Linked DNA regions of Homo sapiens. The protein of the gene in region 1 interacts with the protein of each later gene in a pairwise test. Each region holds a gene or a part of one and is shown in the gene's direction. Other genes may lie near its edges. The genes, in order: DCLRE1B, COMT and ELAVL4.

What was found.
Region 2: the proteins of DCLRE1B (region 1) and COMT interact in binary tests that used the Homo sapiens proteins (3 or more experiments, as listed by UniProt).
Region 3: the proteins of DCLRE1B (region 1) and ELAVL4 interact in binary tests that used the Homo sapiens proteins (3 or more experiments, as listed by UniProt).

Annotation. Positions count from the first base shown.
Region 1 is NC_000001.11:113,908,236-113,911,987, forward strand, and holds part of DCLRE1B (5' exonuclease Apollo), read left to right. Parts: intron 1-2,895; coding exon 2,896-3,752.
Region 2 is NC_000022.11:19,939,805-19,943,556, forward strand, and holds the start of COMT (catechol O-methyltransferase), read left to right. Parts: upstream 1-1,999; 5' UTR 2,000-2,093; intron 2,094-3,752. Other genes in the region: TXNRD2 (thioredoxin reductase 2, mitochondrial isoform 5 precursor), read right to left, coding at 1,897-1,999. UniProt on the Homo sapiens protein: Catalyzes the O-methylation, and thereby the inactivation, of catecholamine neurotransmitters and catechol hormones. Also shortens the biological half-lives of certain neuroactive drugs, like L-DOPA, alpha-methyl DOPA and isoproterenol.
Region 3 is NC_000001.11:50,139,896-50,143,647, forward strand, and holds part of ELAVL4 (ELAV-like protein 4), read left to right. Parts: intron 1-1,876; exon of another isoform or gene 1,877-1,957; coding exon of another isoform or gene 1,958-1,963; intron 1,964-3,752. UniProt on the Homo sapiens protein: RNA-binding protein that is involved in the post-transcriptional regulation of mRNAs. Plays a role in the regulation of mRNA stability, alternative splicing and translation.

The DNA of each region.
Region 1 (3,752 bases):
CTAGATTCTTTAAGGATTCTCACATCTTTCAGATCTTTGTGCAGTTCTCACTTTCTCCTACACTGACCACCTTATTTAAAATTGCAACCTGGCTAGGTGTGGTGGTTCATGCCTATAATCCCAGCACTTTGGGAGGCCAAGATGGGAGGGTCATTTGAGCCCAGGCGTTTGAGACCAGCTTGGGCAACATGGCAAGACCCTGTCTCTACAAAAAATTTAAAAATCAGTTGGGCACGATGGTGCGTGCCTGTGGTCCCAGCTACACAGGGGACTGAGACAGGAGGATTGCCTGGGTCCAGTAGGAGGTCAAGGTTGCAGTGAGCCATGTAAGTGCCATTGCACTCCAGCCTGGATGACAGAGCAAGACCCTGTCTCAATAAATGAATGAATGAATGAAATAAGTAAAACTGCAACCTGCCCACCATCCCCATTCCCAACTCCTGATCATCCATACCAATTCATTTTTTTCATTTTTTTATAGCACTCATATACTATATATATTTTTAAATATGCTATTGCTTACTTGTTGTCTATCATGCACTTCCTCTGGCCCATGCACATACGCGTGCACACACACACACACACAAGCATAAACTCCTTAAGAGCATCACTGGAAATGGGAAGAGACTTTGTGTGTTTGTGGAACAGAGAAGCAGCAGTCAGTATGACAGGCACACAGTGGGCAAGGAGGCTGAAAAGGCAAGAGGGGCTGAAGTGCTGTTAAGCCATTTTGGACTTGATCCTAAACCCAACCAAGAGCTATTGAAGGATTTTAAGTAGAAGAGGGACAATATGCACTCATCACCTTGCAATATATTCTATAATTTATGTATTTATTGGACTTTTTATTGTCTGATTCCCCCTGCTAGAATGTGAATTCCACTATGGCAGTCTCTGTTTTATTATGGGTGTATCACAAATGCCTACACTAATGCCTGACACAGAAGCATTCAATATGAATGAATGAAATTTATCAGAACATAGATATTTAAGTGAGCGTTGTGCTTTAAATTAAGTATACTGAAAAAACAGGTTTGTGCTTGTTGTACTGATTATAAATAGTATAAAACATTGTTGAGGACTCTTTCTTGGAGTTGCCATTTGGAATAGTTTATGAAAATACATTTTTGTTTTATAAAATAAATAAATGTAATAGATTTGGTTCTAAATTACTTTTTTGGTTGTTTCCAAATTTGTGAGTCTACAAAAGGACAAAGACTTGCCACCATTATAAATATTTGAAAAGGACATGTCTCAACTCTGAAAGGAGTTTCAAAATGAGACTAAACAAAGGCATTGAAAAAATTATATAACTTCCAGGGTGACTACCAAATCGATTGAGAAATATCCTCTACTCTCAGGATTGCTTAGCTACTTATAAAGACCTAACCATTCTTAATATTTTAATGCAGAATTTTCTCAAAAAAGCAAAGCTGGCTAGGAGGATGCTATAGTAAGCCTTAATTAATTTTGCAAATATGTAATAAGCCTCTACCCACTAAGTACCAAGTATCCAATAGGCAGTGGGGATATAAAGATGAATAAAATATAGTCTCTGACTTGGAGGGCTCACAGTCTGGTAGGGAAGGACCTGTGGGGAGGTGGAAGTGGGAATATATATAGAGAGAAGAAAAATCCGCTCCATTTGTGCCCAAGGAGTGAGATTTTGAACCATAATCAGGAATAAAGTGGATATAAATAATATATACTTCTTTTTATGGCGTTCACAATCTGGTTGTGGATTTGAAACTTCTTCAGAAAAAGTCTGAGAACAGCTATTAAACAACATCTCCCATATCTGTTACCATAACCATTTCCCAAATTAATGTCTCCATTTCTTTCTCTGTAAGTACTATTTGGGCCCTTCAATTGAAACTTCCACTCCAGCTTCTTCTCATCCTGGCAGTCAAATAATATTATTACCATATTTTTCTTTTTAAAGCCCTGCTCTGAGCATATTATTCTTATGATTAGAATTAGCCATTTTCCTGCTTCACACTCAGTGGCTCCCCTTCACTTACACAATGAAGTCCAAGCTTCTTAGCGGTACATATAAGACGCTCTATTATATGGCCCTTGCTTGCCTCTCTGGTATCATTTCTTATCAATTCCTTTTTTACTTTAGTAACAGCAAACTGACCCCTCTTAAAATGTTTTCCACTATACCCTTTCTACCCTTTCCTTGCCAGGTTAACCTTGCCCATCCTTTAAGATTTAGCCTAACGTTCCCTAACTCCATCACCTGTTAGATACAATACTGTATACTTTTTTTGTTTTTTTTTAAGAGACAGGGTCTCACTCTGTTGCCCAGGCTGGAGGGTAGTGGCATGATCACAGCTCACTGCAGCCTGGACCTCCCGGACTCAAGTGATCCTCCCGCGTCAGCTTCCTGTGTACCAGGAACTATAGGCGTGCACCAACATGCTTATTTGTTTATTTTTGTAGAGACAGGGTCTTGCCAGGTTGCCCAGGTTGGTCTTGAACTCCTGGGCTCAAGCAATCCTCCTGCCTCAGCCTCCTAAAATTGTAGGCTTACAGGTGTGAGCCACAGTGCCCGGCCTGTACACATATCTTTAACGTTGCTCTTAATTGTGGTTTTTCTGGGTCTCCTTGTAGATAGTACTTCTTGAGGACTGACAGTTTTCTTTATTAGTTTTCATGGTGCCTGAAACTTGCTAGATGCTCTCTTTTGTTGAACTAAATGAATGAGTGGATTCTGTGTCATTCCCTTTCATATGTCTTAGCTCAAATGCCACCTCTTCCTTGATATTCTCCCTGGATTTCTCCATGAATTGTATCTATTTTTGTTAAACATTTTGTTGATTTATTAGGATTTTCCAATAGCTTAATTTTCTTCCTTCTCTTACTTTCCCCAATACATTGAACATTATTTAGGACTCTACAGCCTGGGAAAGGAATCACTGCTGGAGCAGCTGGCCCTGGAGTTTCAGACCTGGGTGGTATTGAGTCCTCGGCGCCTGGAGTTGGTACAGCTACTGGGCCTGGCAGATGTGTTCACAGTGGAGGAGAAGGCTGGCCGCATCCATGCAGTAGACCATATGGAGATCTGCCATTCCAACATGCTGCGTTGGAACCAGACCCACCCTACGATTGCTATCCTTCCCACAAGCCGAAAAATCCACAGCTCCCACCCTGATATCCACGTCATCCCTTACTCTGACCATTCCTCTTACTCCGAGCTTCGTGCCTTTGTCGCAGCACTGAAGCCTTGCCAGGTGGTGCCCATTGTAAGTCGGCGGCCCTGTGGAGGCTTTCAGGACAGTCTGAGCCCCAGGATCTCCGTGCCCCTGATTCCGGACTCTGTACAGCAATACATGAGTTCTTCCTCTAGAAAACCAAGCCTTCTCTGGCTGTTAGAAAGGAGGCTAAAGAGGCCGAGAACCCAAGGTGTTGTGTTTGAATCCCCTGAGGAAAGTGCTGATCAATCTCAAGCTGACAGAGACTCAAAGAAGGCCAAGAAAGAGAAACTTTCTCCCTGGCCTGCGGACCTTGAAAAGCAGCCTTCCCACCATCCTTTGCGGATCAAGAAGCAGTTGTTCCCAGATCTCTATAGCAAAGAATGGAACAAGGCAGTGCCTTTCTGTGAGTCTCAAAAGAGGGTGACTATGTTGACGGCCCCACTGGGATTTTCAGTGCACTTAAGGTCTACAGATGAGGAGTTTATTTCTCAAAAAACCAGGGAGGAAATTGGTTTAGGGTCCCCCTTGGTACCCATGGGAGATGATGATGGA
Region 2 (3,752 bases), on another chromosome or scaffold:
TTTAAGACAAATAAAAAGAGGAGTAATAGGAGATACCCCATACTTTCAATATAAACCTGTAGGAAAACCATATCCTAAAAATTTTGAGGGCCCATCTAAAACTTCAATTTGGGAATGATTGTGTTAACTCACATGCAGTAGTATTAAAAAATGACTCGGCTGGGCGCAGTGGCTCATGCCTGTAATCCCAGCACTTTGGGAGGCCAAGGCAGGTGGATCATGAGGTCAGGAGATTGAGACCATCCTGGCTAATACAGTGAAATCCCGTCTCTACTAAAAATACAAAAAAAATTAGCCAGGCGTGGTGGCAGATGCCTGTAGTCCCAGCTACTCGGGAGGCTGAGGCAGGAGAATGGCGTGAACCCGGGAGGCGGAGCTTGCAGTGAGCTGAGATCGCACCACTGTACTCCAGCTTGGGCGACAGAGCAAGACACTGTCTCAAAAAAAAAAAAAAAAAAAAAACCCCAAAAAAACAACTCATATGGTTTAGTAACAGACTGGGCACGAAAGGGCTATTTAAAAAACAGTTGCTCCTCTGGCGGAAAGGAATGCCTGGAGACTACTTATTTTATTTCTTACTGGGAGGACCAGGATCATCATCCTATTTTGCATAGAAGGTTCAGTTTGTTCTTTCCCTTAAAATAGGAAGATAAGGGCATTATCCCCCTAAGTCTCGTATGATATTCCCCATTCTGAGTCCAGAATACCTAGAAATTTGGAATTTGGCTATTGCCGTGTCTGGACTGTGAGTATGGGAAGGGGAAGCTTTTCTGTCTGTTGTCCCCACTACCGCCCCTCACATCCGTGATTCTGAACCCCATGATAAATGCCCTTTGAACCTTTTTCCTCCTTTTGATGCCGAATCCCCTTTTATGGGACTCCGCCAGCACGGGTGCATTTAACCTTCCTGAGCTTGCCCACCTGACGCATGCAGCCAAGAAGCTTTGAAAGATGGAGTGCCCTGGCTGAGGGTTCCAGGTCTCAGCAAGGCCACGAGGTGGTGACTGCCTCCCAGAACTCTGTTGGGCCACCCTCCGTCCTGGAGACCCCCAAAACCTCCATAGCACCAACTCTGCCCATTCACACACACAGTCAGCCCTCCCTCCCGAGTCCACCGCGGGCAGAGGGCCAGCCACCATGCCTCCCATAGCCGCCATCCCTGGGAAGGAGCCCTGACCCCGTCCTTACACCCCTCTACACTCACTGCCTGTGGGGAGAGCTGCTCGCTGTCACAAGCATCCAGGGGGCTGGGTCGAGGGGCCCCCTGCATGGTGGGGGACCATGTTGTCGTGCATGGAATGAAACTGGCCACACATAACAGATATGGTGGCGCTCTGGTCGGATCTAGGGGAGTCTGTCCTACAGGATGAGGCTTGAACTGTCCTGAGTGACCAGACACCCAGCCTCTGCTTCGAGTGCTCAGTTATGATTATTGTCCTGATTTAGTTAACTGTTCTTCAGGGGCTCCAGGAGGACGAGTGTGTATCCTCCCATTGCTCTGTGCAGCCTCTAACCTCTAGAGTCTAGGGGTCTGGGGAGAAGTTGGGAAGTCTGGCCAGTGGGGCCGGTGCCTGGTGACCTCGGGAGGTGGGATATCATCATCTTCAGAACTGTAGTTGTTACTGGGATACCAGCTCTGGGAGACCACAGGTGCAGTCAGCACAGCAGGACCTTAGACAAGGCACCCAGCCCCAGTTTCCCCACCTGGGAAGGGGGCTACTTGTGGCTAGAAGCAGCCCGGACTCCTGAGCAAGACTAGACCAAGAGGCCGGTATGTGGACACCCCCGCGTGGGCACCCCCACGGGGACACCCTGGCCACCGCCGCGCGGACACCCTCACGAGGACACCCCGGCCGCGCGGACACCTACCGCGGGGACGCCCCGACCCCATCCTACCTGCTGCGCCCCGCGCCGCGCCCCGCACCCCGCCCGCCACGGCCTGCGTCCGCCACCGGAAGCGCCCTCCTAATCCCCGCAGCGCCACCGCCATTGCCGCCATCGTCGTGGGGCTTCTGGGGCAGCTAGGGCTGCCCGCCGCGCTGCCTGCGCCGGACCGGGGCGGGTCCAGTCCCGGGCGGGCCGTCGCGGGAGAGGTGAGAGCGCTGGCTAGACCGGGGCCGAATGCGGCCGGATTCGGGGCGGGGGCCTTCAGACCTAGGGTGGAACACTGGGATAGGGTGTGGGGAATTCGGACCGCTGTGAAGTGATCTGACGTTGGGTGGGAGTCTCCGGACTTGGGGTGGGGAATCTGGATGGGAACTGGGGAATTCGGACCTTGGGTGGGGATCTTTGGACCGGGGTGGGGTCCCCAGACTCCTTGTGGAAAGCTGAGGTTGAAGATCTGTGCTGTGATGAGGGGCTCCAGATAGCGGTGAGAGATCCCGCTTCAAGACTGGGTTGGGGGTCCAGACCAGGAGGATAAGCCTCTCCCTGGAGTAGGGCTTGACCTGGTGAGGGTGTGGTAGAGTCACAGGGGAGGGTCCCACTTGGTCCTTGGGCTGGGATCAGACTCTCAGAGCTGGAGAGTTGCAGGAGGCCTGGGGGAGGGTCTGTGGAGCCCCAGACTCAGAGGGCCTTGGTGACTTCTCCAACAGGCTCCCTGTTGGAGGCCTTGGGGTACCCCAGGGCCTTTCCCTGCAAGAGAGAGGCTGCTCCACCAGGAAGGGGCCCAGGACTCCCCAGGGTCGGGGGGATGTGTGGTGTGCAGGACCACGTGGGAATGTTAGAGAAAGGGGAAGTCACTCCGGGCCTGCCCTGCTAACAGACCTGCTTTTTGGATTTTTCCAGCCAGGGATTTTTGTGTCCTGTTGCTTTTTATTGTTTAAAGTGACCCTCCAAGCCTGAGGGACCGTAGGAGCTGCCCTGCAGAGCCCAGTGAGACACTAGTTAATGCAGAAAAAACAGATTTTACTTGGTAACTACTGACAACATGAGAAAAAGCTGGCTCCATGCTGATTTGTCTAGATGTGCCTGGAGTTTAAAGGGAGAGTGAGGGAGTGGGAAGGGGTGGGGACTCAGTAGAGTTAGGGAAACAGAAAATCACCAAAACTGGGAAGGGAGGGTTGGCCCCTGTGAAACCAACTGATCTGGGTTTGCCACTGGGGCTTACCGAAGTCAGGCCCCCAACCTCCCACAGAGACTGGGAGACAGGGGCCCCATCCTCAGGTGTTGGCTGGAACACACAGGAAATTCTTGTGGCAGCCTTGAACTTCTCAGGCAGGCACTTTAGAGGGGGCTAGGATCGTTCTGGGAATGTGGCCTTGAGCTGTTAGGAGCTATGTTAGTGTTCGTTCCAGCCTAGATAGGCCAGGGTGAGGCCCAGTGGAGAAGGGGACTCTAAGGAGCCTGGCTGGAGTGTGGGGAGGGAGGGTCTTTGTCAGCACTCCCCCTGTGCAAGAAGAGCAGAGACCTGCTTCTTTCCTCTCAACAGTCCCCGTCCATTTTCTGTTCTGTGTTGTGTTCATAAACTACCAGCGGGACCATCTGTTGAGACTTGGTAGCAAAGGATTTTTGCTGGATGATGCAAGCAGTCAAGCATTTAATGAGGAAACAAAAATAACAGGCCAGGCACAGTGGCTCATGTCTGTAATCCCAGCACTTTTGGAGGCCGAGGAGGATCACTTGAGGCCAGGAGTTTGAAACAAGCCTGGGCAACATAAAGACCCCATCTCTACAAAAAATTTAAAAATTAGCCCGGCGTGGTGGCATGGGCCTATAGTTCCAGCTACTTGGGAGGCTGAGGTGAAAAGATC
Region 3 (3,752 bases), about 64 Mb from region 1:
TGAGTAATTAGTCATTCAAACCATCGACATTTACGATGACAGGATTTGAGTGCCTACGTTATTGTGCACCGCTCTAATAGTTTATCCCTGAAATTTTCTGCCTGTATAATGTTTCTTAAAATATATCACAGAAACATAAAAGATTTAATGTAGTGCTTTGTACATCCATTAGAGTTCGAAGTCAACTGAACCTCCTCAATGATCTATCCTGGATGCTGACTGTAATTCTGTTCTTAATTGCTATTCAAATGAGGAAAGGAGGGCAAGTCAGGGGCTTGGAACCTGGTCAGCTGCAAAGTTGGCTGTGAGACCCACACAGAATGTTTCATTAAAGTACATATGCACACTTGAGTAACTGATATATTTATTTGCAATGAAAATTGTGCTGTTAGAATATCAAAGGCGTTAGCCTGAGGAAGCAAGTGTTCTGATTTTGCCCAGCCAGCCTCTGTACTTACTGGAGGATGTGCTTTCTACCAACACACATCTTTTCTACTCCTGTTCTGTCCCTCTGTTTCCCAAGCAGAGAGAACAGGTGTCCTGTCTTTGAGGTCTATCATGTAACCTTAAAATGCTGTAGTTTCATATTCGTGCATTTAATATCTTTACATCTTGGCAACTTCTCTTATTTTCCAGGTAATGTTTTAAAATCCTCTTGTTTCATTCACATGTCAGATTTGATTCTGATGTTTTACATTTCTGATTTTTTTTTTCAGCCTGTGTTGCATCCTAAGATGCATCATTAAGACCTGTGAGGGGTCTTATTATAGGATGTATATTAACACATTTGCAAATGTTTCTCAGCTTTCAGACAGCACACTTTTATTGAGAAAACTCTCTTTGTATGTGTCCATTTGTGTGTTTTCATCAGTTCCTTCTGGATACACAAAAGAATAACTGTGTAGTGTAGATGCAGAGCAAAGAGAGCTCCATCTACATTGGATGAGAATGACTTGACCTAATTTATAGATGTGGTCAGCTAAAGTAGCTCAGTAGTGAGCATTGTATCTCATGGCTCCTTTTAGAAGCTAGTTGGGACCAGTTGGGCTGTCTAATCTACAGACAGGACTCACCTCCTGGAGTCAACATAGATTAGGAAATCCACATAGAATGCAAGGAAGGCCACAAAGCTGATGCGGGGACTGAAATTACTTTGCTGCAGCCTTGTTACTTCACAGGCCTTCCTGGAGGAGGTGGACCTGTGAGATGTTCACATGGACAAGTGCTGGCTTTCACCACGTGTCTGAAAACGAAAGATGAACCTGACTATCAGGTGACCTTTATGAGTTTTGGTCCCACAGAATCTCAACATGAAATTCTTCCACATACTCCATCACTAGCACCAAATAAGCTGCCTTGGTGTGGGATATTTTCTAGGTGTTTGTTGGGGAGCTGAAAGAAGGGTAACCTGAAAAAGGTAGAAAACAGAGAAGAGTTTCTAAAGATTGTGGGCCTGGGGGGTTTTTGCCATTAAATCGAATGTAGTAGTCCGGCCTCCTGAATGGATAAATTCTGATTTTCATGTTCATTATCGAGTTGGCAGTGCTTCTTATGTTTGTTGCCTGGACACCTGACTCAGTGAAGCAGTGAGACAACACAGCAAATGGAGGCACTGCAAAGACCCAGAAGGCCCCACAGCTTGGCAGAGCTGAAACCTGCCTCCTAGCCAGGAGTTGTGCTGATGCTCTGTAATGCCATCCCTTTAGCATGCCTCCTTCCCTGGGGACCATCTCCCTGATTCTTTTCCTGGACCCTTGCCTCGAAGGCAAAGTGGCTGAATAGGCTTTGCTGGGTACAACTTCTATCAGTCCTGAGGGGAGCTTGATTTAAGATTCTTCTCAGAAGCTTTTTGCTTTCTCCTTGCTGTCTGGACCAGCCTTCTAGAATCCTAAAGTTGACCTGAAGCCAAGAAGAAAATTCTGGTGATGGGAGAAGTGGAGCCACTTAAATTACTTACATGATGGTAAAGAATCTTAGATGCTCCCCATCTTTCTTAGTCTGCTTTATTTCCTTGGCTCCTCTTGAGCCATGTTTTCCTTTTTGTTTCATTTATCATTTGTGACCATCAGAAGATGAAAGAATTAGAATAACACTCACCTACGTGGGGCATGATGAGGAATAATAGTTATGATGCCTCTGGGCCCTTTGTATTTTAGACATTTAATGTACATTATCTCTCATCCTGAAGATAACCCTGCGTGGCAAGCTTTTTATTCCAGTTTTGCTGAAGAGGAAGCTGAGGCTCAGAGTATTGAAGTAACCTGCCTCAGATCACACAGCTAATAAGTGGTAAAACTAAGTTTTTTGTTTTTTTGTTTTTTGAGACGGAGTTTCACTCCTGTTGCCCAGGCTAGAGTGCAGTGGTGCAATCTTGGCTCACTGTACCCTCTACCTCCCAGGTTCAAGTGATTCTCCTGCCTCAGCCTCCCGAGTAGCTGGGATTACAGGTGTGCACCACCACACACACACAGCTAATTTTGTATTTTCAATAGAGACTGGGTTTCTCCATGTTGGTCAGGCTGGTCTTGAACTCCTGACCTCAGGTGATCTGCCCACCTCGGCCTCCCAAAGTGTTGGGATTACAGGTGTGAGCCACCGCACCTGGCCTAGAACTCAGATTTTAAATCACCTGTTGTCTTGACTCAAACACTCATTCCATTTTTACTATACCACTCTGCTTCAGATGAGAAAATAAACAAAAACAAAAACAAAAAATAGTCTCTGAACATTGATGAGGATGTGGAGCAACTGGAACTTTCATACTCTGCTGGTGGGAATATAAATGGATACAGCCACTTTGAAATACTGTTGGCAGTATCTACTGAAGCTAAATATACATACACCCTATGATCCCAAAAACAGAATCCTAGGACTATCCCCAATAGAAATATGTACATTTTTGTACCAAAATGTTGTACATAACGCTCATAGCAGCATTATCTATAGTAGTTCAAAATTAGAAACAATCCAAATGTTCATCAACAGATAAATAAAATGTAATATTTCCACACAATGGAAATTGCTATAGCAGTGGGAAGAACAATGCATTGTTACATGTAACAGAGCAGATGACACTCCATACATGTGTGAAAAGGCACAAAAGAGTATGTGTTGTATGAGTCCATGTATATAAAGGTAAAAAAATAGGTAAAACAAATCTGTGGACTAGAATTCAGAATAGTGGTTACCTTTGAGGGGTGAGGTAAATGACAGGGATGGAGAACCTGAGAAAGGCATTTGGGGTGCCAGTCATGTTCTGTATTGTGATCTGAAAGGTAATTACCCAGTTGTGAATTGTGTTCACTTTGTAAACATTCTTTGTGTTGTACCCTTAAGATTTATACACTTTATTACATGTATGTTATAGTAAATGAAAATGCTTCCCCCCTAAATCCTCTGAGCAGGCAAATGGTAATAATAATGGAAGCTACTAGTTATCAGATGTCTGCTATGCCTTGGTTTCCTCATCTATAAGACATAGAGAATATTAGAATATGCTTCATTGCCTTCTTGTGAGGAGACAGTGAGAGAAGTCACATTGGATGATTGGCAGAGTAACTAATAAACATCAGTGATTGTGGTTATGTGCCCACCACTGTTCTGGTGCTTTACATAAGTCATATCACTGGATCGGTTCTTACCGCTTTGCCATACGGTGGCATTGTTCCCATTTTTCAAATGAGGAAAATGAAGACTCTTAGGATTTAAGTCCCTTGCCAAGGTCACACAGCTAGTAAGTGGCAGAGTATGAT